Linked DNA regions of Homo sapiens: all the other regions are linked to region 4. Evidence: fine-mapped expression QTL. A gene starts in region 4. Each other region holds a variant in brackets. All regions are shown on one strand. Distances are between the middles of the regions. Region 1 overlaps DOCK1 (dedicator of cytokinesis 1). Region 2 overlaps DOCK1 (dedicator of cytokinesis 1). Region 3 overlaps DOCK1 (dedicator of cytokinesis 1). Region 4 holds the start of DOCK1 (dedicator of cytokinesis 1).

Evidence for each region. PIP is the estimated chance that this variant, and not a neighbour inherited with it, causes the effect. A credible set is the group of variants that fine-mapping cannot tell apart.
Region 1: its variant is the best candidate, but not a certain one, in a credible set for the expression of DOCK1 in testis (GTEx, PIP 0.79).
Region 2: its variant is the best candidate, but not a certain one, in a credible set for the expression of DOCK1 in lung (TOPMed, PIP 0.71).
Region 3: its variant is the best candidate, but not a certain one, in a credible set for the expression of DOCK1 in sigmoid colon (GTEx, PIP 0.80).

Annotation. Positions count from the first base shown.
Region 1 is chr10:127,409,197-127,417,309 of GRCh38, forward strand. It overlaps DOCK1 (dedicator of cytokinesis 1), which reads left to right. Exons shown (of 52, transcript NM_001290223.2): 42 at 117-195; 43 at 1,644-1,728; 44 at 5,956-6,042. Among named protein-coding and RNA genes, the nearest start is that of NPS, 140 kb to the right of the region's middle. The variant G/C (reference allele first, on the strand shown) is at 3,640.
Region 2 is chr10:127,230,555-127,238,667 of GRCh38, forward strand. The region is part of intron 27 of DOCK1 (dedicator of cytokinesis 1); the gene reads left to right. Among named protein-coding and RNA genes, the nearest start is that of INSYN2A, 38 kb to the left of the region's middle. The variant T/C (reference allele first, on the strand shown) is at 4,048.
Region 3 is chr10:127,447,903-127,456,015 of GRCh38, forward strand. DOCK1 (dedicator of cytokinesis 1) reads left to right here. Exons shown (of 52, transcript NM_001290223.2): 52 at 3,430-4,614. The coding sequence ends at 3,525. Among named protein-coding and RNA genes, the nearest start is that of NPS, 97 kb to the right of the region's middle. The variant G/A (reference allele first, on the strand shown) is at 4,763.
Region 4 is chr10:126,901,481-126,909,593 of GRCh38, forward strand. DOCK1 (dedicator of cytokinesis 1) reads left to right here and starts at 3,948. Exons shown (of 52, transcript NM_001290223.2): 1 at 3,948-4,083. The coding sequence starts at 4,038. LOC105378550 (a long non-coding RNA gene) reads right to left here and starts at 3,898. Exons shown (of 2, transcript XR_946449.3): 1 at 3,080-3,898; 2 at 1-2,962. It overlaps LOC124900289 (a long non-coding RNA gene), which reads left to right and starts at 4,251. Exons shown (of 2, transcript XR_007062336.1): 1 at 4,251-8,113. RefSeq lists an enhancer at 4,969-5,717.

The DNA of each region.
Region 1 (8,113 bases), 510 kb after region 4:
TCATCAACTCTGAAACCATGGTGATGCCATTCATTTGGGTGGTTGGGTGTGGTGGGGGGCCTCTCTCATGGTTGATGTCTATGCTGCCTTAGTGATCCTTAACCCCCTCACCTCAGATATTCAGTGCTTCACAGTGAAGCCCAAACTCGATCTGCCTCCTAAGTTTCACAGGCCAGTGTCAGAGCAGATTGTAAGGTAATAATCCCATTTTTCTTACCCAACGTGAGGGTTGTAAGAGGCTGTGTACAGATCTCTTGCTAATAATTCCACCTTTTAAAGGACGGACTTTGGCCATGGATTCGCTTTCCAAATGCTCTTTCTGTCCTCTTTGAAGAGCAAGGGAAGCTAATTATTTTCAGCATCCAAAAAAAGTGACAGGAGATGTTAATCCATGTGCTGGGAGCGTGCAAAGCCTATTCCTTTCCCAAAGTCAGCTGACAGCAAAAACCTAAGAGGGCAGTGGAGGCCGTCTGGTCTCCTTTATAGACCTGCCCTGTGGGGTACAATCCCCTAGGGAACTTCACAGCAGTGCACAAGTCCTGCCTGTTCCCAGCAAAGCCAAGTTCATACATGTGAGTGTGGCCTGAATGTTTGCATTTTAGAAGGCGGGAAATGGGATTTGCACATTTGCTCCTGGTGACACACAGGAGAACCCTTCAGCCTTACAGCACAGCAATTCCATAATGTAGGGTTATGAGGGGGCTTTTAAACCTCCTGAGTCAACTGTCCATATTTGAGTGAGATTTTCTGCCTGTCAGTTGTATCGCACCTGACTTAGCAATGGCATAGAAAGACCTGCTTTAGCAGATGTGTTTGATATTAAGACTTTTCTGTTCTGTTTGATCCATGTTCTGGTGAAAATATTAATCTCTTTGATGACCTCATATTCCTTAGGATCAGCTTCATTTTGCTTCCTGAAGTTTGGTGGTTTCTTTAACCTTTCATCGTTTCTTTGACCTTGCATCAGCAATAATGGGAAATAAACTGGGACCCTGTTTATTTACAAATGATTGCTCTCGCAAGGCATACATTTTAAGGGTTGCAACATTTTTTTTCAGAGGCCTTAAGCAAATAGTGACGCTTAGAGCCTTCTCAGATGCAGTAGTTTCTTTTGCTGTGGAAGCCTGCCTGCATTTCAGTGCAGGGGAGAAATCAGTCTCAGTCTCTCCACGCCCTGCCCTGTGCATGCGGAAAGCCTGCCTCGTACCCCGACCGCGGAGGCAGGTTACTTATGTTTCCTGTGTGTCACTCTTGGGGTGGTTGCAAAATCTGTGCTTTGTAGATCTGAAACTAAGGTATGTAATACTTTTTTAAAATAATAATAAACACATACGTTGAACACAAAAGCTTTTTTCTCTCTCCTTCGCTTCACCTTTCCTCTGTTTTTGCTCATTTCACTCTTACTCAGCTTCTGTTTTCCCTCGAGGGTTGGCAGGGACAGGGAAGAGGCAAAAACTCAAGTTAATTTTTCCACCTGCCAACATTTCCCTGGCTGGGAGAGGACACCAAGGCGATGGCTTCAGGTCAAGGTTAGGGACATTTTACAGGAGGCAGTGACATGTTCTAAGGCCAGACCCCGTGTCCAAAAGCAAATTGGCTATTTGCCGGGTTAAATATCTAATGATCTGTCTGTCTCTGTACAGTTTTTACAGGGTGAACGAGGTCCAGCGATTTGAATATTCTCGGCCAATCCGGAAGGGAGAGAAAAACCCAGACAATGAATTTGCGGTAAAAAACAAACAAACCACCAAACCAAACAACAAAAAATATCATTCCGCCACCAGTAGAACTGCCACTGGAGAAGCGTGGCCTCAGAGGCAGCCACGGAGCCATATTAAATGTCTTTGTGTATTATGTGCAGAAATCTTAATCTATTACCCCCTCCAAAGTTAGAAAAACTAATTGCCATTTCACTAACAATATGACTAAGGTCACTGAGATATTTAATAAGGAGACTGTGCCGTCCAAATGCCGGAGCTCCCATATGAGTAGCGCACTGCCTTCCCTGCGAGCCCCAGGTGAGAGAGCAGGTGCCTGTCATCTCTAGTTAAAAATGGACCCACCGAGTGCTGAGGTGCGGGGTGCTGACGTGGCTTTCTGCAGGTGACACAGCAGTCAGCACATGAACTGGATCTGGACCCGGGTGCTCATTCCTCATTCAGTATCCAGCACCTGAACTTCAGTGGAGCACAACACACAACTGCAGGGTTGACCCCAGCACTACTAGCAATACGGACCGGGTTATTCTCTGTGGTGGGGACCATCCAGTGCATCCAGGGATGTTTGGCAGCATCCCTGAACACTGCCTACTAGGTGCCAGTGCCACCACCCCAGTTGGGACAACCAATCAAAAAGATTTCCAGGCCAGGCATGGTGGCTCACACCTGTAATCCCAACACTTTGGGAGGCTGAGGCAGGTAGATCAAATTAGTTCAGGAGTTCGAGACCAGCCTGACCAACATGGTAAAACACTGTCTCTACTAAAAGTACAACATTAGCCGGGCGTGGTGGTGCACGCCTGTAATCCCAGCTATTTGGGAGGCTGAGGCGGGAGAATCGCTTGAACCCAGGAGGCAGAGGTTGCAGTGAGCCAAGATCGCTCCATTGCACTCCAGCCTGGGGAACGAGAGTGAAACTCCATCAAAAAAATAAAGTTTCCAGACATTGCAAAATAAAACATCTGCCCCTTGTTGCAAACCACGGCATTCGAGTTGTAGAAATAACAGCAAACATCTTTAGAGCCTTTTTTCTTTATTTTTTTATTTTTATTTGTTTATTTTTTTTGAGACAGAGCCTCGCTCTGTCGCCCAAGCTGGAATGCAGTGCCATGATCTCAGCTCACTGCAAGCTCCGCCTCCCAGGTTCACGCCATTCTCCTGCCTCACCCTCCCAAGTAGCTGGGACTACAGGTGCCCGCCACTACGCCCGGCTAATTTTTTGTATTTTTAGTAGAGACGGGGTTTCACGGTGTTAGCCAGAATGGTCTCGATCTCCTGACCTCGTGATCCCCCCGCCTCAGCCTCCCAAAGTGCTGGGATTACAGGCGTGAGCCACCGCGCCTGGCCCTAGAGCCTTTTAAAAATTCTACATACAAACTGCTTTCATGGATTCATTTGTATTTTTATTTTATTTATTTTTTTATATAGAGGTGGGGTCTATGTTGCTCAGGCTGGTCTTGAACTCCTGGGCTCAAGTGAGTGGATCCATGTTGAAAAGGCATCAAATAAGCCATAATTTTTTTAAAATGTTAATGTTTATCCGTCTTGCCTGGGAAACCTCCGGAAATCCTTCTGTACTCCTGTATTGCAAGGAGGCATTAGCCCGGGGACCCCCAAGGAGGACCGGCTCTGCTGAGAATGGCTTCTCTTGTGTGCCGTCCGAAGGCATCTAGGCTGCAAAGGTCAAAGGTGAATTAACACCCTACTCCTGACCAGAGCAAAGCTCGGAACCCTTCCAGCAGGGTTGCCTCAAGTAAAGAGTGGTGGCTACCCAGTCTCCCTCCCAATCCCTCAGGGGTCTGCCAGTCATGGGATCCTCAGGGCAGTACCTGTGAGTCTCCTAGCTCAGCTCTTAAGAGCCATGGGGAAGTTCCTTCCAGCCCCGAGGCCAGATTCCTTGTGTGTCACCAAGGAGCACAAA[G/C]GAGCTTGGAGTTGGTGAAATCTGCAGTATTGTGCAGTCCCAGCAGGCTGGTTGTTTGAAGATTATGTTCACCCTATTTGTTGGTGAACCCAGCACCCTGGACCTCCTCCAGGACTGGTCACTACAGTGTCCATTGTCTGCAACAGTGCGGGCAGAACCTAGGCACGTCCAACCTGGACACCCTCGCTAAGGGCAGTGGCTTTCAGAGCAGACTGCACCTGTTACTGTCATCATAAGCACTAACGCTAGTGTTTATATGGAGTCCCTCAACTGTGGGATTTATAGGCAGTTCTTGAATTTCCCTCACACCTCTCCCATCTGGCAAGTAGATATATTCTTAGACTATAAAGAAATAGACACAAGGAGGTCAAGTGAGCCACTGGAGGGTGCGCGGCCAGTTGGGTGCAGAGCTAAGAATAACGAAGGCTCTTGACATTTTGAGCTATGCTGAGCCTCAGAGGCTATGCTTCTTCTAAATGGCCCTGAAATCCCCTAATGGCCCTGTTGAGGTCCGGGCACTTGGACAAAGTGTTCGGAAGCTGCAGGATTTGGTCCTTCACATGCCCCACAAAGCCTTAGATAAGTGCAACGTCTTTTGCTCTACTGGGAAGCCAGCCTCGGCCCCTCCAGCGGGGAGCCTGGCTCCAAGTGCAGGGGGCTGGGGAAGCTGCCCACCAGGCCGAGAGCAGTGCGAGGTGGCTCATCCCTGCAGACCTGGCAAGGGGTGACTGATGTGCTGGGGAGTGAGGGCACTGACGAGGAGGAAGATGAGACAGGGCCTGCGTGAGGAGGAGCTGGCCGTAAAGCCCAGGATGGAACCCAGAGGTCCGTCTCAGGGCATGTTGACATGAGAGAAAGCACTGGAATCTGGTCTAGAGGTGGATGTGAGAGGGCCAGACCTGTTTCCATTGCCAGGACAAAAACCTGAGGGAGCCGTCCCCATGGGGCAAAGAGGACTGGTGTGGGACACGGAGGCCTTGCCTGTGTCCTTATGGCTTCAGCCAGCTCCTTCCCTTTCCTCCTATGGAACGTAAGAAGTTTGGGATAAATGCTTTCCAAGATCCAAGTCAGTTTTCTGAAAATTTTTTTTTTTTGAGAGAGAGTCTTGCTCTGTTGCCTAGGCTGAAGTGCAGTGGTGTAATGTCAGCTCCCTGCAACCTCCGCCTCCCGAGTTCAAGCGATTCTCATGCCTCAGCCTCCTGAGTAGCTGAGACTATAGGCACATGCCACCACATCTGGCTAATTTTTGTATTTTTAGTAGAGACGGGATTTTGCCACGTTGCCCGGCCTGGTCTCGAAGTCCTGAGCTCAGGCAATCTGCCCGCCCTGGCCTCCCAAAGTGCTGGGATTACAGACGTGAGCCCCCCACGCTTGTCCCAGTTTTCTGGAATGACTGGCATTCCATTATCCCATCTGCTTAAGTCTAGATTCCTGTTGACACTCAGACTGCTCAGTGACCCTGCAGTGCAGGGAGGTTGGAATGGCAGAAGATTGTTGCAAGCTAGACAGTACGAACGAGGCAGTAGGATAAAGGATTTCCAGTTGACCCCTGCATTGGAGTTTTTGTGCAATCCTTAAAGAGTAGTAGAATTGTATTTATTGGGTTAGAACAGTTTCCTGCAATAGGTAATATACTGTTTTACAAAGAACACATTGTCAAATGATGTTTTTATTTAAAATATGCATAGACACACTTTTTAATACTTAGTAAGAAGTCTTGAACAATAGATACTAAAGCATATAGGTTATCAGCTTCAGGTAGGGGATGGTTTTTCCTCCTGCTCTTTCCATATCTTTATGTTCTCATATAAACATATATTAGTTACGTCAAAACATTTTAAAGTTTAAAATACCGACTGGTTTTATCAGAACATCAGAGGTCACTTTGATTAAATCCAGTCTCCCAAAGATGTATTTGCCCCTTTTAGTTTCTTATGAACACTGTAGCTAATGTAAGACTTCTTTGGAGCCTTCCTCAAAATCTGTTTGCTCAAGAGGGGCTCCCCATACCTCATTTTGGAGTATACACATCTTTCTCACTCACCTAGTATACTTTCATTGTCAAATACCAGAGTGGTGGGCAATGTTGGCTAGGGGACAGGGGATACTTTGATGTATCCTGAGCGACCGTTAGGTAGAGCGTGGCTTGTGAGGTGCTACCTGAAGGCACACATGCCCTGTGCTGAGCACCACAGACCCTGTCCTGCTGAAGGACCTGACTCCTTTGGAGTTATTCTATAAATCCCCCTTAGGGCAGAGCTGTCCACCTGCTGACATCCTTCTAACCCGTGTTGTGTGTGTGTGTTTCCTTTGCAGAATATGTGGATCGAGAGAACCATATATACAACTGCATATAAATTACCTGGAATTTTAAGGTGGTTTGAGGTCAAGTCTGTTTTCATGGTAAGGATGGCCCCACCCCAGAAGGAATTGTCCGTTCCCTTCCTCAATACAGTCTGCCACGCCTTCTTCACCTGCTCATGCCCCGTGGTCACTGTGGCAGCGTGCACACAGCAGACTCTACAGTTCCCATAACCACCCCACCTGTTCTTGAGAGCATCGATATCTCCTCGCCTAGCCATATTTTAGTGGAAATGCTGTGTAATCACGACCAACTCTAGCTTATCAAAAAACCAGAATGAAGATTTCATTTCTTCTTACAATGTATTTAAATTCAGTCATAGCTGTGCTGTTTTGACAATGCTTTGTGTTAACCAAGTGAAAAGTTGAAGACAAATTCCAGTCTACATAAACTTTTTTAAAGATTTTTTTCCTGATGGTTTTATTGCCATTTACATGACAAACAACTATTAATTAATAGTCCTTGCCCATTTCAAGTAAAAATAGCCTGAGAACATACCCCTCCCTGACCCTTTTTAAAGAAATAACGATTTCCAGCTCTCAACAAAGCTAAACTTTGCTTTGAGATGGGGCAGTTTCATTTACGTGAAACTCACATTTGCAGTGAGCTATTGGACAGTTTCATTTACATGAACCAGAGTTGGGCTGCAGATTTATTGACAGTATTGAAATGTCAGGGCCAAGGCAACTGGCAATATAAAAACATCTGATTGAAATCTGTACGTTTTTGTTCATGTGTCTCAGTGCCTTTTGTTTTCACCTGGCAAGAACTCACTGAGGGGGTGGCACTTGCCATTTAGTTTTCAATGAGTCCCCCCGAAACACCTGATTATTTGTCTCTAGGGGCCGGCATCTCTCTGCCCAGCTGCGTGTCCAGCGCCGAGCCTTCTCCTTTGCCCACACCAGCATGAGCTATGGGCAGCTATGGGCCACTCTCTGAGAGGTTGCCCGCAGTCAGAGCCACTGCTTTATACTCAAAGCACCCAGGGCTCTTCACCTACCCCTCCTGGGGTCACTTTCTGCTCTGGAGTTCCCTTTCTGTGCCCCTAGCAGCCAGGCAGTGCCTGACAGATAGAAGGCTGTGGGAGTTATGTGTCAGGTGGTAAAAATGCACTCCCTTTGCTGGGTCCCTTTGTAGCTAGTGAGGCATTGTACATGTGAGAGACAACAGAAGAGCAGGCCCTCCACCTAAACAGGCCGTGATCCTCTTAATCACCCTCTGCCCATGAGCCCTTTGTAATCGGGGCCTGCCAGCCAACAGCTGCCGGATGCAGGAGCTTAGGGAGGTGGAGAGGGGAGCCCTGACCTTTCGTGAGGATGCAGCTTCTCCTCGGGCTGCTTTGGCCATTTTGAACAGACTAAGAGGGCAGGAAGGCAAATAATCCCAGAATGGCAGGACTCACGTCCTGCTACCAAACCCTGATGCCCTCCTCGTGCCACCTGGGACCAACCCCCGTGGGATATCTGTGGGAGCAGCAGCTAACCTTCTTCAATAAAAATAGGAAGGGATTCTTTCTCAGTGCAAATGAGATTAGTAACAGGGAGGTAACAGTCAGTCCTGGTGGAATACTGCCCTGGAGTGTGCATTTGTTGAAGCTGTGTGCCCGGGATGAAATGTCGTAGGGCCTGGCAAAGTAAGTTGTGGGGTCAGGACAGCATGGCTATGCCTGCTGTCCAGGACACCGGACAAGGGGCCCTCTCAGCAGGGTGCACGTGGCTGGCCACACCAGTGCATCACAATCTCCCCAAGGCTGTCCCTCCATCAGTGCAAGGACAGTGACATCAGTGGGCAGACAACCTCTGTTATGTCCACAGCCACCTAGGAGTGCCAGTCTAGGGTTGCTGACGGACAGAATCGCCCATTCGCTGTTCATCTCTGCCCTGCCCCACCCCCAGCTCCCAGGCAGTCCGCTAGAGGCTGTAGCAGGAAGAAAGCCGGACATGAAGATACCAAGGGCTCTTGGGCATGGGTGGGGGCCCATCACGCTTCCTTTGGAAGGAGCAAAGTTATTGCTGAGGTCACCCTGGGACATGGTCCCCGTGGCCCAGTGTGAGGAGGAGGTTTGGTCTGCTCAAGCAAGACCTCAGGGCAGCTGTGGTCCCTGCCTTAGAC
Region 2 (8,113 bases), 330 kb after region 4:
TGAAAATCAATTGACTGTAAGTGTGTGGATTTATTTCCAGGCTCTCTATCCTGTTTCATTGGTCGATGAGTCTGTTTTTATGGCCAGCACTATATTGTTTTGATTACTATAGCTTTATATTAGATCTTAAAAAATCTGGTAGTCTGATGCCTCCATCTTTGTTATTTTTGCCCAAGATTGCTTTAGCTATTCTGGGTTTTTTGTTTTTTTTGTTTTTTGTTTTTTTGTTTTTTTGTTTGTTTTTGGTGGTTCCAAACCCATCTTAGAATTGTTCTTTTAATTTTAGTGAAAAATGTCATTGGAATTTTGAATAGGACTTGCGTTGGATCTGTAGATAACTTTGGGTAATATGGATATTATAGCAATGTTAATTCTTCTAATCCATGAACATAAGGTATCTTCCATTTATTTTTATCATCTTCAGTTTCATCAATGTTTTATAGTTTTCAGTGTACAGATCTCTCTCTTTCTTGGTTTAATTATTCCTAAGTCTTTTATTTTTTGAAGCATATTTTATCACACGTTTGATTACTTTTATTAATGCAACTTTCATTAAACAACCAGAAATTTTTGTTTTAAGACTCATCTGGTAATTCTTTTCTATCAGAGCAGGGTTAAAGTTTGCTTTGAAAATGATCACATGGAGATCAAACTCTCTTTAGCGAATGGGTAGACTGAATCCAAGGCTTTTTTTTTTTTTTAACATTTAAATGCCCTCTCCACAAGCCCCACCACAAAGTTATTTTGAAAATACGAATTCAGTACTATTCGATACAAGAAAATGTTGGTGTAGTCAGTGTCTTACAATGTATATTTTAAGTGTATTGTAAAAAAGAATATTCAGTGCATGAATTTCTTTTTCTTATTCTTTTTTTTTTATTTTGAGGTGAGGTCTCTCTCTGTTGCCCAGGTTGGAGTGCAGTGGCACAATCATGGATCACTGCAGCCTCCACTTCCTAGGCTCAAGCAATTCTTCTTCCTCAGCCTCCCCAGCAGCTGGGACTTCAGGCACACACCACCATGCCTGGCTAAACACATTTCTTTGGAAGAGTGCCATTTAGCTAGAGGCTTGGGGATCTTTAAAAATACTAGAAATGACATCTATAACTTTGTCAGAAGCACATTCACTCATTAATTGATAGAATCATTGTCCCCTTATTTAGACTCAAGGCTTTTGTTGGAATAAATGTTTTCCCTTCCTTCTTGTTTGTGTTAGGCTTTCTTCTTTTCTTTGCCTTTTAATGTTCTTTCAAACAAATAGAAGACTGAGTGCATTCGCTCAGACATCTTCATTTGTTCAAATAAACTCCATTTTTTCAGACAGACTTGAACAAATGGAGAGACAGTTCGTGTGTCACCTAGGTAAAGGCTGTCTGCTAGGGGTCCTTCAACAAGCAAAACCAAGGTCCCTGCACACATGGAGTTCATATTCTAGTGAGGAGAGACATAAACAATTTATGCAATTTGTGTCAACCTGATTGGTGCATGGAGAAGGCAGAAAAGGAGGGAAGGAAGTGAGCCAGGTGGTCAGCTGGCAGAGAAGCGTTCCGTAGAGGGTACAGGTAGAGTACAATCCTGAAGGGTGCAGACCTTTTAGTTCTGCATCTTGGTGGTCATATGTATTGGAAGAGCTTGAGAAAAATGAAAATACCATTTAGCTTAAGAAGTTGTGAGTTATCTGCAAGTCAACTCATTTCAGGAGTGGAAGAATCCCCGGAATGATTTCCTAATATCAAAATGTATGCAGGTTTCTCTTTTGAATGTCTTGTATATTTAGAGAGGGTGCTGTACAAAGTCTCTTGTTTTCCATACAGCAAATTCCAGGATCCCTTGCTGGATACTGTGGCTGGAGCAATGTGAGCAACAGAGGCAGAGTCCGGGAGGTGATGTGGGGCTGGGGCACTCATCATGGCCTTATAGGTCTGCGCCTTGGTCCACATTCGTACTGCAGTTATTGTTTTTATTTGTGATAATGATTTTATACTAAATAATGGTGATATTCCTACCATATTTACCACGTAGTAGTGTCTGAGGTTTCTGATTCTTTCGAACAAATGCCTCCTGTTGACCCTGTTTCCATTTAACCAATCAACCTAGATTTCTGCTTTTTGCCCCTTCATGACACCAACACAGTGGGTTGAAATTCAAAACAAGTGGACTTCATTTCATGATCTCATGTGCTTCTTATTTAAACAGGAAATAGGAGCATTGCATTTGACAACTTTTAACTGTGTAGCCAGATAATTAGCTTGTGAAAAACATACTCAGTTTTACAAACAAGTTGTGATTCTGGAAAGTAAAATTAGTCATTATAGTACTACTTTGCGGATTTACCTCCCACTGCATGCTGTTAAGATCTCATCTAAGCAAGATTAATAAAAAATAAAAAATCTTGACTAAACATCTGTTGCAAAGTGACTTTCAATTTGGCTCTTCACCATGTGACTGGTGATTAGAGTTTTTGGTTTAGGTTAAGGGGATTTGATTTGATTTGGCATGGTCCCTTTTTAATTTTATGTATGAGGCAAATAACTGAAATGTCCCTGATTGTCATAAGTGAAAAAATATCATTAAAATATTTGAATTTTGTTCAAGGAGATTAATCTCTATAAACCAATGTTTTGTATTCCCTAATTAGAATTATGGTAGTCACCAGTATGATCAATGCTAAGTGTTTATTTGGTAATTAGGAAGTGCAAGCTCTAAATTTTGATAAGATTGATGAAATGGCCTCTTCTCATATTTTCATTATGTCCGTATAAACATAACTTAGAAGTTGGAAATATGAATTTTGTCTACATAACAGTGGACATGCTACAACAAACAAATATATAGCTACAAACAAAGCTATATATTTACATTGATATCCCCTTGATTATTTTTCTCAATGAGCAGACATTCAAGAGATTTTTTTCCCCCACAAAATGTGATGTGAAACATCTACAATGTATACTTGCCAAGTGCATAACTATTAACTTACTCCAGGTACCAGATGGTCTTATTAAGATACTAATTAATGTCAACTCTGACAAGTGAAGCTAATGTTTAAATTCAGCTGCCAGTAAGTTCTCTGTCAGAGCACTCCCAATAGAATGTGAGTTATATGCGGGCTTCTAGAACAATGTCCAAAACACAGTGTGCCTTCGCAAAGGTTTCAGCGAACGGATAAATACTGTGGCTACATTCCCTTTCTAGGAAATAAGAATTATAAAAAATGTTGATCTTCTAAGTTTAATTTTATTATAGTTTGACCTTACATATAAGTTGTGTTTTGAAGGTACCATTCTTCCCTTCTTAGTAAAAATGTAACAGCATCCATACGATGTGATTTCGGCTGCTCCATTTTATTGTTGATCTACTTGTTCTTCAATAATAGAACTCTTGTTTTATAATAATTTCCATACCATGTTTGTTAACCAATAATATCCATAACCATAACTTGAGGCACTTTGTTATAGCTGATCCTGAGGTTAGGAATACTTCCTTGACATGATACATACAGTATATTAAACCAACATTCAAAATAATAGTTAAAAATTAGACACTAAAAGCGTGCCCATTAAAATCACTTAAGAAAACAGGCGCTTGCTGTCATTATTATAATTTGACATTACCGTGATAGTGCGGCCTGAGGAGTAAGTCTAGAAGCAGAATTAAGACCTACAGTGATTAGAAAAGACAACACAAAAATATTGACAGATGTTGGCTTGATGTATTTAGAAACCCTCTCCAAAGTGGGGGAAAAATAGTTTGGAAGTAATAGGAGAATTCTGTAGGTTCAATTGCAAAATGTACACATCAAATTCAATAGTTTACCCTAATATACAAATAAAAATACACAAAATGTTCAAAGGGTTATTTAAAAAAGCACTCCCTCCAAAAGACACAAAAATAAAAGGAGCTGTTAAAGATCCGTATGATGAAAACCACAAAACATTCCTGAAATGGCATAAAAATAGACTTGAACAAATGGAGAGACAGTTTGCATGTCTAAGTGGGAAGGCTGATATTGTAAGCCTCTTCAATTAATTTAAAAATTCAATGGAA[T/C]TCCAATTTGAATCCCAATAGGACCTTGTTTCAGACTCAATAATGTGTTTCTAAAGTACATGCAAAAGAATAAATTGGCAGGAATACTCAAGAAAAATGTGAAAAACAAGGGTAATGTGAAGTAGGCCTTGCAATACTGAATAGCAAAACCATTTGAAAGCTACAATAAAGTATTAATTAAATTGAAAGTACTCTGTTTCTATATAAGTGTAAGAGCAAGAAGGAATCCTTTCAAATACAACATTAATTACATATGGCTTATAGGACATGGTGATTTTCAGATTTTCTTCTTTATTTTAAAATATATAAAATATATACTTTATATTTTATACATATAAAGTATATGGATTTTATACATAAAAAGTAAATAATATATGTACATTTTATACATATATAATAAATACATATAAGTATATATACTGTATAAAGCATATATACTTATACATAAATCTATATAAAGTATACTTTATATACTTTGTATGTATAGAATACTTTATATATGTATACTTTAAACATTATATACTTTGTATACTTTATAAAGTATAAAATACGTATATTTTATACATTATAAATGATATACTTTATATTTTATATAGTAACATCCATTCTTCTTCCTTCTAAATTTTGACAGACAATACAGTTGTGTAGCCACTACCAAATACAAGATTTAGAATATTTCCATTTCCGTAAAAATATTTCTCATGCCCCTCCATAGTCAGTTCTCTCTTCTTTGTCACTCTAGTACTGCCTTTTCTAGAACGACATTAAAAATGGATTCATACAGTGTCTAGCCTTCTGTATCTGGCTTATTTTGCTTAGCATGATGTGTTGGAGATTCACTCATGTTTATTTACCAGTAGTTTGTTCCTCATTCTTGCTGAGTACTATTCATCATGCAGATATGCCATAATTTATTTGTTTATTTAGTAGGTAGTAGGTGTTTGGAGTGTCCCCTATGTGTGGCAATTATGAAGAAAGCTCTATAAATACTTGTATAGAAGTCTCTGTGTGGGCATATCTTTTCATTTCTCTTGGGTGAATTCTTAGAAGCAGCGTGGTTGGGTCATGAGGTGAGTATATTATCAGCTGTATATGAAGCTGCCAAACTATTTCCTAAAATGGCTTTACCATTTTGCCTTCAGACCAGCAACATGAGTTTCCATTGTTCTGCATCTTTGTGGTGGTTGTTTTTTTTTTTAATTTTAGCCATTCTAATAGGTATATAGTTATATTTCAGTGTGGTTTTAACTTGCGTGTTCCTATTGACTAGTAAGATAGACCATGCTTTCATGTGCATCTTGGCCATTTGTGTTCCTTTTTTGATTAAATATCTGCTCACATTTTTTGCCAATTTTTGGTGGGTTATTTTCTTCTTATTGGTTTTTGAGAGTTTGTCATATACTGCGGATGGAAACCCTTTGTCAGATAGGTGTTTTTAAAAATATTTTCTCCAGTTCTGCAGTCTGTCTTTTTACTTTCTGTATAGTGTCATTCAAAGACCAAAAATTTTTAATTTTGATTTAAGTTCAATTTATCAATTTTAAAATTTTATGTTTCATGCTTTTTGTATCCTAAGAAATATATTCCTATGCCTAGGTCACAAAAGTTTTCTATGTTTTCTTTAAAAAGTTTTGTTGTTTTAAGTTTTGCATTTAAATCTATGATACATTTTGAGTCAATTTTTGTATACGGTTTAAGGTATGGCTCCTTTCTTTCTCCCTCCCTCCCCCTCTCCCCTCCCCTCCTTCCCTCTCTCCTTCCCTCCCTCCTTTGCTCCCTCCCTACTTCCCTCCCTCCCATCCTCCTTCCTTCCCTTCCTTCCTTGGTATTTGGGTATCCAACTGTTTCGGCACCATTTGTTGAAAGTACAGTTTGCACATTGATCCTTCTTGACACGGGTTTTTTTTTTTTTTTTTTTTTTTTTGAAATCAGTTAACCCTATGTGTGCAGCCAGTTTGTTTTATTTGTCTGTCTGTCCTTTCCAGTACCACACTGTCTTGATATCTGTAGTTTTATAATAAGTCTTAACCATATTGAGTCTTCCATTCCATGAATATGGTATATTCCTCCAATTTTTAGGTCTTATTTGACTCCCGTGTCAATGTTTTGTGTGTTTCAGTATACAATTTTGTGACTTTAAAATATTCTTCTGTATATGGTTTTGTGTTTTATTCTTCATCACCATCATCATCACCACCATTCATTTATGTAGCCAGCCACTGTGCAAATATCCTTAAATACATATCTAATTAAACTTTTCAAGAATTCCAGATTTTAGAATCATGATCCGAGTTTTACAGATGAGGAAAACGAGGCTCAGAAAGGTTAAATAGCCTGTTAAAATTTATACAGCAAACGTACCCTTGGTCAAGTGATTATTCCAAATTGTCTGCCTTTGAAACCTTTACTCTTGACTCCTAAACTAATTTTGTATCATTTATCTATATAACTTTTGCCTTAAGACCAAAAAATATTGGCCGGGCGCGGTGACTCTCGCCTGTAATCCCAGCACTTTGGGAGGCCGAGGCGGGCAGATCACCTGAGGTCTGGAGTTTGAGACCAGCCTGGCCAACATGGGGAAACCCTGTCTCTACTAAAAATATGAAAAATTAGCCGGGTATGGTGACGGGTGCCTGTAATCCCAGCTACTTGGGAGGCTGAGGCAGGAGAAGCACTTGAACTCGGGAGGCAGAGGTTGCAGTGGGCCGAGACCACACCATTGCACTCCACCCTGGGTAACAAGAGCAAAACTCCATCTCAGGAAAAAAAAAAAAAAAGACAAAGAGTATTATAAACTAATGAAAAGAGCGAGGGTGATGTTGGGATCCATATTTGGCAGGGAAGCAAGATATTTGTACTCTTTCTTACAACTTCCACTGTATTTTGTTAAGACCTGAATACACCTCTACAGTGGACAGTCCAAATAAATAAGCCATTCCCGTACTTAAGAAGCATGCATATGGTGGAGCTTTATGTGCAAAAGCAACAAAGCCCTCTAGTTATATTTTAGCTCCTCAGATACTTTTCTGAGTGATTATTCCTGCTGCTTAAATCTCTGTACTACTCCCTTTTGCCCAAGTTAAAATACCTAAATCATTGGTTGTAGTTCTATTATTGTATTCAGTAATAGTTCCTTTGATTGGAAAAGAAATACCTCCTTTTTAGAATTCCCTGGCAGTCTGTAATAACTCCCTTTTATAATATTTGTAACATTGTGTCTTAATTAATTGTTGTCATATAAGTCTTCTCACTAGATTGTGAGTAGAAGCTGTTTTCCTTTGGCTTTTTGAGATGTTTCATATGTACAAAAATGTTGAATCAGTATTAGTGTTAAACACACGTACCCACCTAAATTCACTACATATTAACATTTTGCCATGTCTGCATTATCCCTGCATGTGTAAACTTTCTTTTCTGACATACCAAAAAGTTGGTCACAGACACAGGGACACATCATTCCTCGCTTCATGCAACTCCTATGAATAACTGCTCTGTAGGCACAGGAATATTATGATGCCTATGAAAATGAACAATGATTCCCGAATAGAATGTAAGATCTCTTCCCTGTGAGGTTTTCCCTTTGACCTTAAGGGTCCCCACCATTTGTCTTGTCAAATGCTGTATACTCTGAATCTGTCTATTCATTTCCTCATGATGGAACATTTTTGGCAAAAAAAGTAACTACTTAAGTGATCCTGTGTGCTTAGCATTCTACCTAAAGGCCCATACTATAATTAGGAAGAATCTATAGGGTGTTGTTTTCAGATTGAGTGAGTGTCTTCGTCCCCAAAGACCTTTTACCTCGAGGTTTCAGTGCCCATTGAGGAGCCTCCTCTGGACCAACCATTCCTTTAGGAGTTGAAACCTTCAGTTATCAAGTTCTCTTCTTCATTCCGTGTTTTTTTGGCTCATAGTCTTCCGTAGGTCACAGCTTTACTTTTGCCCTCAACCCTGCCACGTCGCCTATATGTCTGTGTAGACACATGGATTTTTTTCTCATTCAATTTGCTACATTTGTTTGTTGTCATCGTTCATTTTGATATTCAGATTGTCTCAAGCATCCCAC
Region 3 (8,113 bases), 550 kb after region 4:
TTTCTATCAAGAGGTCTGACTTTTTAAAGAGGTTGGCCAATATCGCCCTGTATGGCAGGCACCTGTTGTACACCTGCTTGGCCCTGGAGAAGCTTGTCTCCAAACATCCCTCCAGGCAGCCTCACCTGGTGCTGGGAGCTCCTGGGTGGTGACAGGCACTCACCTTACGGAGACTGCAGAGGACAGCCAGGTTTGGCTCCTGGGCACAGTCATCCTCACTGTGCCCCCACCCCTGGGCACCCTCCCCAGTGCTAGTTCGGGGGTGCTGACCTGGCTTCCTCCAGCAGCACTGGCCTTTGTAAGCCTAAGCAACCTGCTGGAACCCCTCTTCAGCGTGAGTCCCTGAAGCTGGTACCCCCCAGCAGCTGTTTTAGTCATTCATGCCACCCAAAGTGCCTTGTGCCAAACAGCCCCTGGGCCTGCCTGCCCGTACAAATATTAGTCAAAGTCATGAAAAGCCATTTAAACAAGCACCTCAGTTACCAGTTGACAGTTCTAGAAACATTCTTTTGAGATCCACCCCGTTCCTCTCCTGGTTCTCAAGGATGCTGTCAGGCGTCACTCATCCCTGCGGGTCCCAGCCCCATCCTCATGTCGGGCCCAGGCATGTGTGGAGGGCAGCATGAGTGGGATGGAGGCGGGCGAGCGATTGACTCAGCCACGGCGGGAACTTCTGCTTCTAGGCTCAGGCCTCCCCAGGCCATGTTATTCACAGCCTTTGACAATTAAATCAGTGGTGTCTGAAGGGTAAAATATCCCTCTTCATATGTGGACAGCTGGCCGTATTTTTTTTGCTATCCAGCCTTAGTGAAGTAATTATATGGCCGCAAAACTCCTGTAGAACATTGAAAACATGAGATTGTTGGGTGGCTCTGTTTTTTTCATAATGGTGAGACATGGTTTTTTTTTTTATTTTTCTTTAATAAACAATATAAATCCCACGTGCCATTTCTTTTTCTTTTTTTTTAATGGAGACTCGTTGACGGAGTGTTCCACAAGGTCATTACATCCCTTATGAGAGGAGTGGAAGAGAGAGGGTGTTTGTGTACAGCATACGTATTTCATCATTCCCTTTGTATCAGAAAACTAAACAAGCAGTCATCTTTAATATCAAAGAGGCAGATTGCTCTTCTGAGACCCAAGTGCCATTTAAACAGGCTCCCTCTCCCTAGAGACGCCTCGATGGGGAACCGGTCCTGGAGGAGGCACCAGGTTCCCCTGTGAAGAGGGCTTTCTGGCAGGCTGGAATGGTTTGTTGCACCACAGAAATGGAAGCCGGACCTTCCCCGGCCATTTCTAACTACTTGTGAGAGTAAAAGGAGATTCGGGGGGGTCTAACAAGAATATTGGGTTGCTTGGAGTATTGTTTCCCTAACAGCTTCGTTAATTGGTCACATTCTCTTCTCTCTATTTTATTGCAAAGGCAGGAATGTTCCCCCTAGTCTCCCTACACTAGTAAACTGAAAATTCTAAACTTAGAATTACAGCCAATTCCTCTTCTTGTTACAAATCAACTCCGGGGTAACATTTTATTGTCTCAATTTCTTGGATACACCATTGTGGGTTACTGATGCCACATACAGTTGATTAAGTAAGGGATAACATGGATTAGCTCTCTCTCAATTGATAAAGGGCGTGTGAATTCAATTAGATTAATGACCCAGGTGTCTTTGGTCTTTGTTTCTTGTTTAATTTACTTGCAGCCTGAGTGCATGCTCAGGTGACACGCTGGTGGTTAGTATGTCATCATTAGGCAGAAGCGGTTGCATTTCCTGGGGTGCCTCCCTTTGCACAGGCCCTGAGAGCTGTTCTAGGATAATGATCATCCATCTGCCATGATGGGGGTGTGATCAATATCCTCCTGTCACTCTCATTGATCAGCCTCAGGCTTGTAGGCAACTCTGTCTTTAGTTGTTGCCACTAAGCTGTCATTTCTTTCCAAATGGCTCTTCCTGTCAGTAATCTGAGCTTACTGAGTTTATCACCATTAATCATTTTGCTTAATGGTGATAAACTTTTGACATGCTCATACTTGGCATAGAGGTCATTTGCAGCGCTGTGTTGGTATCAGGCTGTGTTAGTGTGGTCCTTACCTGCTCCTCATTGGCCTATCAGTGAGTGTGGCTTTCACATGTAAACAAACAGTTTCATCAGACCTCAAAATAGATGTCTCTTTTAACGGTTCTAACCAACCTTAAAAAGACTTAATTGTTGTTTTACCTTCCTTAATATAAGGTCATACACTCATAGGACATCTTTATATCAGCTTTACTTTTCCACATTTATTCTCCTCTCTGTGTTAAGCATTAGGTCATTTTTGTATTTACTAGTCTGTGAATCAGGAGGAAATCTGGGCGATGAGTGAGAGACTACTGCGTCACTGTCTATCCTTGAAAACCTCTTTTCTCACATTCAGCTAAATGCAAACCCACACTGAGAGGCTGATAAAAATCCACTCTTACCCTTAAGTTAGACGATAGTGTTCTGTGATTTCATTCTGGTTCTTCTGCCTGTGGCATGCTCCCACTTACCCTGGTCTGTTCACTTCTTCATTCATTTGTTTACTTACCTGTTCATTTCTTCATTTATCCACTGACTCGTTTATTCACTCATTCATTTATTCACTCATTCATCCATTTTTCTATTCGATTGACCCATATTTCTAGAGAGTCTCCTGCACATCAGGTGTGTGTGATGGGCATGAGGGTCCCAAAAGCAATAGGGTGCAGCTGCCCTCAGTCATAACACTCCAGCCAGGTCCATCAGCAAGGGGTTTGCTATTATCTTCACATTGGAAATTAATGTTCTTTTTTGGAATCTAAAGTAATATATGCCCATGAGCTGAAGCCAGCCAGCCAGCCACCTGTTTCTGTGAATAGTTTTCTTGGAACACAGCCACACCCCTTTCTGTACACACTGTCAATGACCGCTTTTCGGCCACACCAGTGGCATTGAGTGGCTGCAACAGAGACCGTGTGGCCTGCCAAAAAGCTGGAAATATGTACTGTCTAGCCCTTTCCAGGAGAAGCTTGCTAACCTTTGCCCGAAGCTCAGAAAGCAAAAGAAGGTCTCTCATCTCACCCCTGGAGAGTGCCTCTAAGGACTTATTTATCCCTTAGACAATAGATGGATAACTTGGTCGATAGCATCTAGATTTAAAAAGGCCACGCAAAGGGCAATGGTACCTCTCAGGGGCTGTGCAGACGGTGGGAGAGTGCTCAGAGGCGTCAGAAAGGCCCAGGCCCATAGCAGCCCAGTCTTGAGCCTAGTAGACCTGCCAGCCCCAAGTCGGACAGGATGGAGCCCAACTCATGTGGGGAGGATGGTTCCGGCTGAGTGGCTGTGCCAGGTCAGACCCCACCTGGAGACGGTGTCTTTTCTGTCAGGACATCAGTTATGTGACATCTTCCCCATCCTCATGTTTTTTAGCATCTGCCACCTCCACTGCCCAGCAAAACTCCGCCTCCTCCCCCTCCAAAGACAACTCGCAAGCAGGCATCGGTGGACTCCGGGATCGTGCAGTGACGTCGCAAGCCTCTCTGGAAAGAGTGTGCTGCCCCTCCCCATCTCCATGCCCTCTCCTTCTGTGTCCCCTGAGTCTGCTGTTTACCTCATTGGGCCTGTGATGTTAACATTTCGTGCGACTGCTTTTTCTTCAAAGGAGTTCAGTTCTCACCATGGAGTGAGTGGCCTTTAGCGTCATGGAGCAAGGTGGGTCTGGGAGGTAGATATGGGTCCGGGATGTGCTATCGTAGTTATCAGAGTTGGGGGCCTCTGAGTGTGTCTGGCTCTGAGAGAGTCTGAGTCTTGCCCAAACATTCTTTCTTTTTGTGCCAAATGACTTGCATTTGCAAAGAGCTCAATTGCTCTGAGCTCAGCCAAGTAGGAGAGGCTAGGCCATCACTCTTAGGAAGCTGTGTAGTGATGATGTATAAGAATCCTCCTCACTGTCATGGGATGTTGTATCCAGCCCCTCCTTGTTCCAGCCGGTGGTGTGACTTCGTTGGTTGAGGTGTGTCTCCAACCTACATCAGACCATGAAGTTCAACCCCTCCAGGGAAGCTCCTGATTTCCCCTGCATAATTGAAAATAGGATATTTCTCAGCTATTGAACAGTTACTAATTTATGGGGTGGAAACAGCATTAAGAATACTGAATCAAATGGAAAAACAAATGAATACAGGAAGATAAGTGTTCGTTCTTTTCTGAAAAAGAGTATGTGTACCACAAGAGCTGGTTTTAATTGGGTGAATTGTTTTTGTCCTCATTCTGTACAGAAATTTGTATATATGATGGTTCTTAGAACTTGTTTTAATTTTTGTGGTCCTTCCGTTTATTATAATAGGCGTCCACCAATGATTATCCATATGTGTTCTTAATTTTTAACTGCTGGAAGTGTTAAAACACACACACACACACACACACATTTTTTTTTTGAGAACTCCAAAGTCCTGAAAATTTTGGTGGACAATGATTTTTAAAAAACTAACTTTGTATAACCTAATATTTGTATTCTCTCATCTATATTTTTTTATTCACTATAATCATGATACTCTTCTAATAGACTTAAAAGTTAATCATTGACAACGAAAAATAAAATGTTATTTTAAAAGACTCACAGTGTCTGACCAATTATGTTTTCATCCTTGATTGTAAAATACAGACGCTGCTGTTTCTGTTCTGCTATGTTAAAGTGCTTGGTGACACACATTTATATATGCACCTCTTCCTCCAACATTGTTTTTAATCCTCTCTGTTAATT[G/A]TGTCTGATCTGGAGCCCAGATGGGAAGTGCCCGTGTCCCGTGCATGGCTGCATGTCCTGATAGACAGGAGCTAAGCAGAGACCAGCTGAGTGCTTCCCCATCACCAAAGCCAGAGGGCTGTGGGGCTGCAGATCATGTGGGCCTCTTTTCAGCTGCTAATTTAAGAAAGGGCTTTGGTTAATGGGTGTGTGATTTAGCTGTAGAGGTCTGGACATGGAGAGCTTTCTCCAGGGCCTATCTGGCTGGATCTGGGGTGGCAAGAAACAAGGAAGGCAGGGGGTTCTCTTCTCAATGGACGGGGCTCTCACCTCTGCTCCTGCCAGACGTGTGGAAGCCATAAGGATGTGCCCTCTGCCCATCTAACCCGGCCTAGAAGGAGGCTGCTGTGGAGCCCAGGAAGCTGGGAGGCTCTTCCTCCTACTCAGGTGCTGTCCCCAGCGTATTCATGCTTGTAAATATCCAGTCCACCCCTGAGAAACTGTAGGCCTGTGTGAATGTGGGATTTTTTTCTTCAAGAATCTTTACTGTTTCAACTGTTGCACCAAGATAAATATTCATCTTCTGTCGAGTGTGTGAGAAACTGAATATTATCCACAACCCTAGAAATCATCGAATGGGCACACCCATGTAGGCGACCACGGAGAGCCCAGCCTGGGGACAGGTTGTTTTTGGGCAGTCTGTGCCTCACATTGTATAAGCGGCCACCAGAAACGGAAAGAATAGGCCGGGCGCAGTGGCTCACACCTGTAATCCCAGCACTTTGGGAGGCTGAGGCGGGCGGATCAGCTGAGGTCAGGAGTTCAAGACCAGCCTGGCCAACACGGTGAAACCCCATCTCTACTAAAAATACAAAAATTGGCCGGGCATGGTGGCAAGCGCCTGCCATCCGGTAGGCTGAGGCAGGAGAATTGTTTGAACCTGGGAGGCAGAGGTTGCAGTAGCTGAGATTGCACCATTGCACTCCAGCCTGGGCGACAAGAGCGAGAAATCTGTCTCCGTCTCTATCTCCATCTATAAAAATAAAATAAAAGTATTTATTTTTATAAATATAATTGTATTTATAAAAAATAAAAATTATAAAATTTATAAAATGATATAAAATATAATTGTATTTATAAAAAAATAAAAACACAGAAAGAATAGTGCCTGGCCCTGTGATAAATGATGGTTTTCTTGTGGAATGACGTGTGGGCTCCTGCTCTTCCCCCATCTACCGGGTTAATCCTCGCGCTGCACAACCCTGGCTGGAATCCCCGCCCCACAACCCCCCAAGGACCTTATATCCGTCGGGGATCTCTAGAGCTGGGAGGTTTGCAGAGAACACAGAACAGAGTTAAAGAAAAGTGAAGACAGCCAAAAGGTTGCAGACATTTCCTATTTATTAATATGAATTACAAATATGCTAATATATTCACCAGTGAGTAAACTTCTCAAACGTTTCATGCAGATGCAACATTTCCTCAGCTTGTAAATCCGTGGATGGGCTGCAACACAATAATCAGAGACAAACCGGCCTCTGCGCACAGTGCCTGCTACATGCATTCCTTCTGGAATGTGGATCCAGGGGAAGGTTTGCCTCTGTACATGCGGGGACATATCCCTTCTACACAGAAACACTATTTCTTAACCTTTTTTTTTGTTTTCACAATTACCTTTCAAGGAGCCTTTTTAGACATTTTTTTCCCTCCATCACTCTTATGATGAAATTTTAATAGTACAGCCATACTGTGTATCACTTAGACTATATACTGCATATCTATTATGTACTTTATGTATACCTATGCTTTTTTACATTAAAAAAATAAGATTTTTTGTTTGTTTGTTTCCCAAGTACCAGTTTTCAGGGGGTGATACTGCCTTTTTGCAGACTCATGCTCCAAAGCAGGAATTGTGAGCTTCTTAGGCTCTACTTTTGCTCTGGTTTCCAGGATGCTCAAAGCCAAATTTTGCCCTCACACGTTCAGTTAAATTTTCGTTTTATTCTCCTGCCTTCCAAAAGCTTTCTGGACTATTAAAAATCCATCTTTACTTTAACTACCTAGTTTCATATGCACTTTCATCAAATCTTTATTCAAAGTAGTTAGTATATAAACTGTATTTTATAAATGGAAAAGTCTTTTTCTTACTTGAAAACCACCCTTGGTGCTTGAAGATTGCTTCCTAGTATTTAAAGAAATTATTTTTTAATCAATTTTAAGATTATTCTTTCATGCAAAGATTTGATCGTTTAAATTTCTTACAGATTTCATTATCTTCTGCTCTGGATTCTTTTATGTTATTGGACTTTGTTTCATGTCCACAGAACTCTTTGTTGGTTTAATGGATTTTCATTTTTGCTTTTTAGTTCCATCTCTAATTACTTTTTAATATTTTACTTAACTTTTTAAAGTCTGTTTGGGAACTTCTGCCACCACACTTTTTGGCAATCTGCCTTTTCAGAATTATTTAAACATCTACTGTTTCATTGATGATGGCTCAAAAAAATAGGGAACCTGTAGGCCAATAAGCCTTTGTACCCAAACAAGCTAGAGTTGTTCTGCCCTATTTGTCTCCCACACACGAGGAAACCTCTGCTCCTCCAGGTTGTACAGTGGCCTGAGTGCAGTGTCACTAGCTGGAGAGGGGAGTGAGGACTCCCTGGATGTCTGATGTGTGGCAAACCTCCTGGGTTAGTTTCAGCCCCGGACAAAAGAGTTCTGATGTGGTCTTAAGTGTCCACCTGGCTGGACGGCAGTAGCCAGTTAATCAAAGCAACTGTAAGTGTTGCTGTGAACGTATTTTGTAGATGTGGTTAACATCTATCATCAGTTGACCTTACATAAAGGAGGTGACCCTTGATAATGTGGGTCAGCCTCATCCCATGCGTTGAAGAGGCCTTAAGAACAAAAACTAGAGTTTCCTGGAGAGGAAGGAATTCTGCCTCAAGACCGCAGCATCAGCTCCTGCCTGACTTCCTAGCCTGCTGGCTTGCCCTACAAATTTTGGACTTGCCAGCCCCTACAATGGCTGAGCCAATTCCTTAAATCTCTCTGTATACACACACACACACACACGCTCTGACAAAGGACAGACCATAGCAAACCTCCTCTCATAAAGTGGTATTTGGCAGAAACAGGTGACTTTAGGGATACCTGGAGTAGAATCCAAGAATCTAGAGACCCCCAAGCAAGCCACTTATCCTCTCCAGTCATGAGTGTCTCTGTGGGTCACGTCATAATATCTGCTGCCACCTTGTCATGGTGTCTTGAGGCTGGAACATCCAAGATGGCGTCCTTCACGCGCCTGGCACACTGCTTCACTGCAGCTGGCTGGGCATTCTCTCCTCTCTCTCTCTCTCTCTCTCTCTCCCT
Region 4 (8,113 bases):
GCACGATCTCTGTTCACTGCAACCTCGGCCTCCCGGGTTCCAGTGCTTCTCATGCCTCAGCCTCTTGAGTAGCTGGGATTACAGGTGCCTGCCACCATGCCCAGATATTTTTTTTTAGTAGAGATGGGGTTTCACCACGTTGGCCAGACTAGTCTTGAACTCCTGACCTCAGGTGATCTGCCCATCTCGGCCTCCCAAAGTGCTCAGAGTTACAGGCATGAGCCACGGTGCCTGGCCTGTTTCACTGTATTTCTTATGGTGTCACTTGTTCCTCAACCTCCTCTATTTCCTGTAAGCACGAAGTTGGGTCTAAAGTCTTGAATATACACTTTTGGGCTGGGTGGCATTGTGCATTGTGACTACATGCCTGGTCATCCAGTATGATGCCCAGATCTCCCACTGAATCCAAGAGGCAGTGGGCATAGGCCTTGTTCCTCTCCTTTCAAAGGGCAAAAAATCTGTGGTCAGGCCCCTTTTCCTGCATAAAATCTCCACATCCCTGTTCCATTCTCATCTCTCCCCACCGACTGAGAAACATGCCCCATTGACTCACTGTGCCTTCTGGTACCTCCACCAGGCAAGATTTTGCTGAATTTACCTCCTGAATTTGCAGTGCACATGTGTGAAATTTTTTGGAATTAAAAAAATTAAAACTGTACTTTTCAAGATTTAAAACTGTAATATTGATTGTGTTCTTCATGGCCCCAAAGCAAGATTCTGTTGTATCTTGGAGGAGGGGGGTCACTACTCTGAAATCCCAGTGATGGGCAGCACTGAGCAACTGAGAGCCTCAGCATTCTTGGGCTTGTTCACACCCACAAGCTTGGCACAGATCCAAGTCCTGCAAGATGCCTGGGAGGGCAACTGAGACCTGTGGCCCAGCCACATTGACTCAGGAGGTAAAAATGTCAACAGGCCACAACCTCCAGGGCTCCTGGAATTGGAGACGAAGCCAGTTCTGAGCTTATGCAACCATAGGACAGTGAGAGAGGGCCATGGACTCGATTTAGAGCCACAAGATGAGAGCACTGCTGGAGCACCGTGGGGATGCTGACAAATCTTCTCAGGGCTTCAAGGACCGTGGCTACAGGTACATCTCAGCCAAACTTGGGCACATGTTGCAATCAAGGGACTGAAGCTACAACCACCTGGCCCGTGGTCCACCTGGAGTTTTGTTTTGTTTGTTTTTGAGATGGAGTCTCACTCTGTCACCCAGGCAGGAGTGCAGCGGTGCGATCTTGCTTCACTGCAATCTCCACCTCCTGGGTTCAAACAATTCTCCTGCCTCAGCCTCCTGAGTAGCTGGGACTACAGGTATGCGCACCCACGCCCAGCTAATTTTTGTATTTTTAGTACAGACAGGGTTTCTACTAAAACCCTGGTTGGCCAGGCTGACCTCGAGCTCCTGACCTCAAGTGATCTGCCTGCCTCAGCCTCCCAAAATGCTGGCTGGGATTACAAGCATGGGCCACTGTGCCCGGCCCCACCTGGAGTTTTAAAATTCTGATTTATAAATTTATTATATGACAGTCTACCAAAAGTATGCAAATCCGGCACTACACTTATTTATGCATTCAGTGAGTCACCTTTATCTGAGTGCAAGTGGCAACTGTTCTAGAAAATGGGAACCATGAGGTTATCAAAGAACCTGGAGGTAGGGTCAGATGAGGAAGCACATCATTATGATGTCTTACACATGCAGTCATGTCTCCTCTTATAATCCTAAGACTCACCTGTGAGATTCCTATTACAGCCCCTAGTTTACATGTAGGAATATCAGAACCCCAAGGTTTAGAAACAGAACGGCCAGAAACAGGAGGAGGATGGCCATGCAGCTGGGCGTGGCAAGGCCAGGCCTCCCAAGTCTGCATGACTCTTAAGCTCCTGGCCATTCGTTACAGCACGCCATCTCCAATGCAGAATCACACCAACAGAACTGAAACTGCACATTAAAGAGAAGGCGAGTGTCACCAAAATCTGTTTCCCAGGCTTCTTTGCAGAATTCCAAATTCCTAGCACGACCAATAAGGCCCTTCTTCTACCTCTGCAGCCTCAATTTATGTCACTTTCCTGTTGTTCCCTATGCTTCGGCCATCCTGGCCTTTCTGTGCTCTGAAGGAGTGGTGCTCCTTCCTAAACCAGGGCCTTTTCACGTGCTGTTCCCACTCCAGTTCACCTAGCTGGTTTCTGCTTATCCTTAAAGTCTGGGTTTATCTTATTTCCTCAAGGGAGGCCTCCCTGCTCTGGAGCAGGTCAGGCCACCATGTCCTTTACCGTAGAGCACCCTACTTGTCCTGGACAGCACCTTCACAGATGCTTCTCCTTCAAGGGGTCAGAGTCACCAGGCCACCACTACAGCGCCTGAGCCCCGGAGGTTTCTGATTTCCACAGAAAGCTTCAAGTGCATGCTGTGTGTGAGTGAGCCTGGCCACTTCCTCTGTGGGACTTCAGTTCCTTATCAGTAAAACAGAGCCCGTGGCTTTCCATGAATGTGGGGTTGACTTACCAGAATGCTCAGGTCCCACGTTATCCTCTTGAACGCAGCAGCTTTCCTCTAACCCACGAAAATGGAAAAGCTCCTGTGCCATTCCCAAATACTTATTTAATCTGCATTCTGGGTGGCCCCTAGGGCAGGTGACGGGCATTCTCTACCGCAGGATGGTGCCCCACCTGGTCCTCCCCAGGCCCTGTGGCCATCCTGGCCACCTCCCTGTGGGCTCTCCCAGCCCTGCTGTTCAGCACTGTCCCTACCTCACAGAGGTAGGGACCTCTTTTTCTTACCTTCTTCCTTTTCTTACCTTCGTTCCTCCAATCCCTGACGGCCCCCAGACCTACTGTAGTTGTCTCTGTGTCTTCGGAGAGAAGACACCCCATTAATGTGCCATGAAACCAAATTTATTCCATTTAAAGGGCTGCCTTCATTCGGAGGCTTTGTCCATGTCTTGGTTTTAACCTCTCTTTTCTGAAATTACAGTAAAAATAAATAGGTGTGTGTTGCTTTAACTTTTCCCTTGGAGAAATCTGAAGCCCCCACCTTTTACTGTCATGGGAAACACCAGGGCCTGAGAAGAACTCCCACCTCGGGCGAGGATGCCGTTCCTGAGCCCCACGCGTGGCCTGGGCTTTCCTTTCCCTACTTCTCTCTTCCCCCGACTTCAGCAGATCCTGAGTCCCACAACTATTCTAGCATTAGCTTCTGCAAGCCCAGCTGGGCTGAGGTTTCTGCGGCTGCTTCCTCTTGGTCTCTCTGGAAAACTCCACTCATTCAGCACCCAAGCAAGAGGTCACCTGTCTGGAACGCACTCCCTCGGCAGCGCTGTGCCACCTCTTTCCACCCCATTTGAGTGGCCGGCACTTACCTGTGCTGTTTGTTACCTGACGTGTCCCTTCTCCCACCTACCAGGCAGTTGGTGCGGCGCTCCCAGCACACTCGGGCAATGAGTGGGCAGGCGCTCAGGTAACGTTTGTCGAATGAATGAATGAGCCACGTGCTCAGGAGGACCCTTTCCAGAGCCTCTGCTGGTTTGTTCTGCTCCGGGACTCTCCACCAGGGAGAAATCCGAGCTGGGGACCTCGCACCACCAGGCTCCGGCCTAAGCCCGCGCCTTGCAAGCCGCCCGTTTCCTACCTCCCGTAGAAACCCCCCGTCCGTCCCGCCCCCCTAAGGGCGCACCCCTCTCACGGCGTGAGCGCCAGCCCCGGGAGCTCCAGGAACTCAGGAGAACCCCGCGGGGGTGCCCGGGTGCGGAGCGCGGGGCTGGGCGCACTGGGACAGAGGAAGGGGAGCCCCGGCGACCGCGGGGTCGGGGCCCAGGGTCCGCGCCGAGGGCGGGCGCAGAGCCCGCGGCCGTCCCGCCTCCCGCCGGCGCTCCCGGCCTTTCCCATCCGGCCCGCGACGCTCCGCCCGCCCCGTCCCACATGACGCCGCCTCCGCCGCAAACTTTTTCCTCCCCATCCTGTCGCGGCTCGAAAGGAATGGAAAATGGCGGCCTAGACGCGGAGTTTCCTGCCCGACCCGCGGCGGCTCCGGCGGCGCCATGACGCGCTGGGTGCCCACCAAGCGCGAGGAGAAGTACGGCGTGGGTGAGCAGCGCCGCCGCCGCCGCGCCTCTCGCCCCAAGCCCAGGCTCCGGCGGGGCGGGTGTGCCGGGCGCCTGTTGCCGCCGCCCCGAGCGGCCGCCGGGCCGGGGAGAGGCGCTTCCGCCCGCGCCCGCGCCGCCGCCCCGCTCGCAATGCCCGGCGACCCCGGCCGCCCCGCGCCCCCGGCGGCGTCAGCTCCAGCCCCGGGGATGCGGGTCGGGAACACGAGGGGGTGGGGTGGGAATGGGGGCGGGCGCGTCCCTCCCTAGGGTGTCCCCTCCGACGCCCGCTCCTCTGGACCTCTGCCGTGGAGCCCCCCGGGCTACCCCCAACTCCCCGGCCCCGGCCGCTGCTATCTGCGCGGCTGGGCCCGTCAGGGAAGCCCAGGGGTCACTGTCTCGCGGCGGCTTCTGCTTCTTGGATGAACTTGCGTCCCGCGTCCGGGCTCTGGGTGGGCGGGCTCAGGTCGGCGCGGTCCCAGCGGATAATTCCGCCCTTTCCCGGCGGGGAGGAGGGGGCGCGACCTGGGTGGCCAGCGCCCCTTGCCCCTCGGCGGTCTCGCTGGGGACCGTGTGGGACCTTGGAGAGAAGGCGAGCGGCCGAGCGCCCCAGTGGCCCCAGGCCTGGAGACCCTTCCGGGAGAGCGGGGGCCTGTTTTTGCTCCGCGGCTCTTTGTCGCTTCCGAGGGGGGATGGAAGGAGTCGGGTTGCAAGTTTACATTTCGGACCCGAGTGCGCATTCCTGAGAGGGAGGCTTTCCCTTGCGGCTGAATAGACGGGCCCGTCCGCGTGGGACCCGCATCCTTGCGCCCCGGGGACCCGCAGCCGGTCGCCGAGGCCTGCGGACGCCCACCTCTTCGTGATCTGCGCGCCTGGTGTCGGGACTGGGCCGTGGCTACTCTCCTGCTCTCCCGGGTCCGGGATCTTCCCAGTTGGTTTTCGGGCTTGCTATTCCCCGTCCCACCATCCACAGACATCCTTGACCGCCTGCCTCATCCAGGCCACTCGACCCGACTGGGAAGACCTTTGGTGGTCTCGCCTCCCACAGCCCAGGCTGTGTCCTCCAAGGGCACCGTCTCAGCAGCAGCCCCGCGCCCATTCTGTGCCTGGCCCGTGCTGGACCTGCCCGACCCTCTGCTGGTGTGGTTCGAATCCTGGCTCTCTGACTTTTGGGAAGCGCCCTGGCAGCCCTTGTCCCCGGAGCGCTCTCCTTTCTGTGAACAGTTGCTTCTCTCTGCTGTCAATGACTTACAGTATGCCCTGACCACGGAGCCAGCTGGACAGTGGTCACGGGGACAGTCCTGGGACAGCCCTGGGTCCTACCGGGCCTGCACTTAGCTTGTTCCACATGCTGGGAGGCATAGGGGGCCTCCTTGCTTCAGGACCATTATGACTGAGCTTCCTCCCCATCTCCCCATTTTGCAGATGAGGAAACTGAGGCCCAGACACATTCACAAAAGTGCAGGAGAGCTCATCTGACTGCAGACTCAGTGTGTAACCTGCACCCTGTGCACCACCTAATGGATTCAGTCTGGGGCACTTGGCACGGGCCTTCAGTCTGCATCAGAGGCGAGAGGTTCGGGGTGGATATTCCACCTGAGAATGCTTGGGTTGTGGCGACAGTGGGGGTCCCTGCGGGGGTAGTGTGTAGAGGAGAGAGCTGAGGACTGACTCCCAGGGAACCTAGCACCAGCACACGCAGAGAGAGAGGAAGAGGTGGATAGGCAGGAGAGGCAGGAGGCTGGCAGAGGAGCAGGCATCCCATAGCCCTGGCCCTGCTGAGGAAGCAACTTAGGTGCCCATGGCCAGGGTGCAGTAGTGGCCATTGGGGGTGTAGTGGGGGCCATCGGGGTGCAGTGGGGGCCATCACTGCTCCCATTCTACAGAGGCAAGGAAGAGGTGGATTGCTTGCCTGAGGTCACATCACCAGTAAGTGGTGCCTCCTGGGTGTGAAGTGTGGCCGCCCTGGGTTCAGCTGCCACAGTGTCCTGTGCTTGCCTGCAGATGGGGAGGGCTTCTCTTTGGGACGCCACATTTTAAGAGACCTTGTTACCCTTCGTCTGCCCCCAGAGAGACCTGGATGGTGTCAGTTAGGATCCTATAGTGTAGCTGGATGGTCTGGAGAAGACTGAAAAGAATGTTCGTAGATGGGAGAACGGGGTCTCCTTGCTGGGGAGGAGGCTGAGGGCCAGAACAGGGCGGTGCGCTTGAGTCTCACACCTTCCAGAAGCTTCACCAGCGCTCATGGTGGTGACTTCTAACATCACACCTCTTGCTAATACTTTGGTTTTAAGAAAACTCCATGTTTGATTATTAAGAAAAAATAAATTTAAAAAAGTTAAAAAAAGAAAAAATAGAAAACTGTTGGAAAATTTTAAAAGGCGAAAAGTATCTGGGATGGTTTTGCCAGGAAATGCTAGGAAAGATGTGAAGGGCTGAAGGTAGAGAAGAGAGTGGCTGCTGTGCTTCCTCTCACTGGGTGCAGATGACAGCTTGCTGGGTAGACAGTAATGAGACAGCACCACTCCATCGGCATCCAGAGGCACTTTAACCAGAGTCCCCCATCAGGGAGGGTGGGAGGGGAGCTGAGCATGAGCGCAATGGGGCCATCCCAGGCTCCCCACTTGTCTGCAAGTGTGCAGTGGGAGGATTTTAGTGGTTCTCACGAAGGATGCTGACTGGGAAGGATGTAGGTGCTGGGATGTAGGGATTTATTGCCAGTAGGTGATTGGCTGTTTCCACCTAAGGGAAAATTACTGGAGGACCCCTCCACCATCCTTACCAACTCCAGCATTTTTCGGAGCTTAACAACAGGGCTGTGTTTCCCTGGAGGCGCTCTGGTGGCTCTGTGGGTGGACCACACTTCCACTCTGGCCACTTGGCCCATGAACGAATCACGAGGGGTAAGAAAATGATAAAACTCCATCTCATTTGGAAACATGAATCACAGCTTATTGTTTGCAAGTACTTGGAATCTGTTAGAAGCATTGTTTGTAAATGAGATACTTCAGTTGTATATTTATTTTGTAAAATTGGGAAAGGAGTAAACAGCTGATCTGGGGTTCCTTCTGCAAAGGCAGGAAATGCTGGTTCCTCCCAATTCATTCCACTGGGGGCTGCCTGTGAAATTTACCAGCCCGCGTTTCCCCCTTGGTTTTGAGTTGGTGGGTCATGTTTACGGGCCTGGCATATTAACAGGCATAAACCTTGACTCAGCTGTCACACTGGCCAGATGATCTTTTCTCTCACAGCCCAGTAGGCAGTTTTATGTCCCGACGTCAATAAAATTATGTTGCCATGGATCCTGTTCCTAAGATTAGGTGAAAAGATGCAGTATGTTCTAGAATCACACGTGAGGACCATGTGCTCACTCACTCACATCTCAACAATGGTGTTGAAGGCAGAATAATGGTCCCCAAAAAGGTCCACGCCCTAATCCCCAGACTCTGTGAATTCAATATGTTACATGGCAAAAGGGACTTGGCAGATGTGATTCAGGTTACTTGGAATTCGTAGATGGGAGATTATTCAGGACCATCCACGTGGGCACAGAGAACTTTGGCTGTCAAAGTTGTGAAACAGGCAGTCAGAAGATCCTATGTTTGGAAGCACAGTTGCTGGCCCTGAGATGTAGGGGCTCACTTGCAAGGACCAGAGAGAGGCCTCAGGGAGCTACGGGAGGCCCCTAGCTAATGATCGGCAGTTACAAAGAATTGGATCCTGCCAACACCCTGAATGAGCTTGGAAACAGATTTCCTCCCCAGGGCCTCCTGCTAAGAGCCCAGCCAGCCAACACCTTGATTTTGAGACCCTGAGCTGCTGGGCGTGTGGCCTGTGGAACTGAGATAATACATTTGTGTGGTTTTAAGCTGGCTGGGTTGTGGGAATTTGTTACGGCAGCAGTGGAAAACTAATACAGATGATGGGAGAGAAGCTTGCAGGGTGAGGCTCTCTTGCACCCTTGAGATCTGTTACTAAGTTCATTGAAGGTAGTGAACCCAAGTGTGCTCTTCACTTTGGCCACTTCCAAGTGC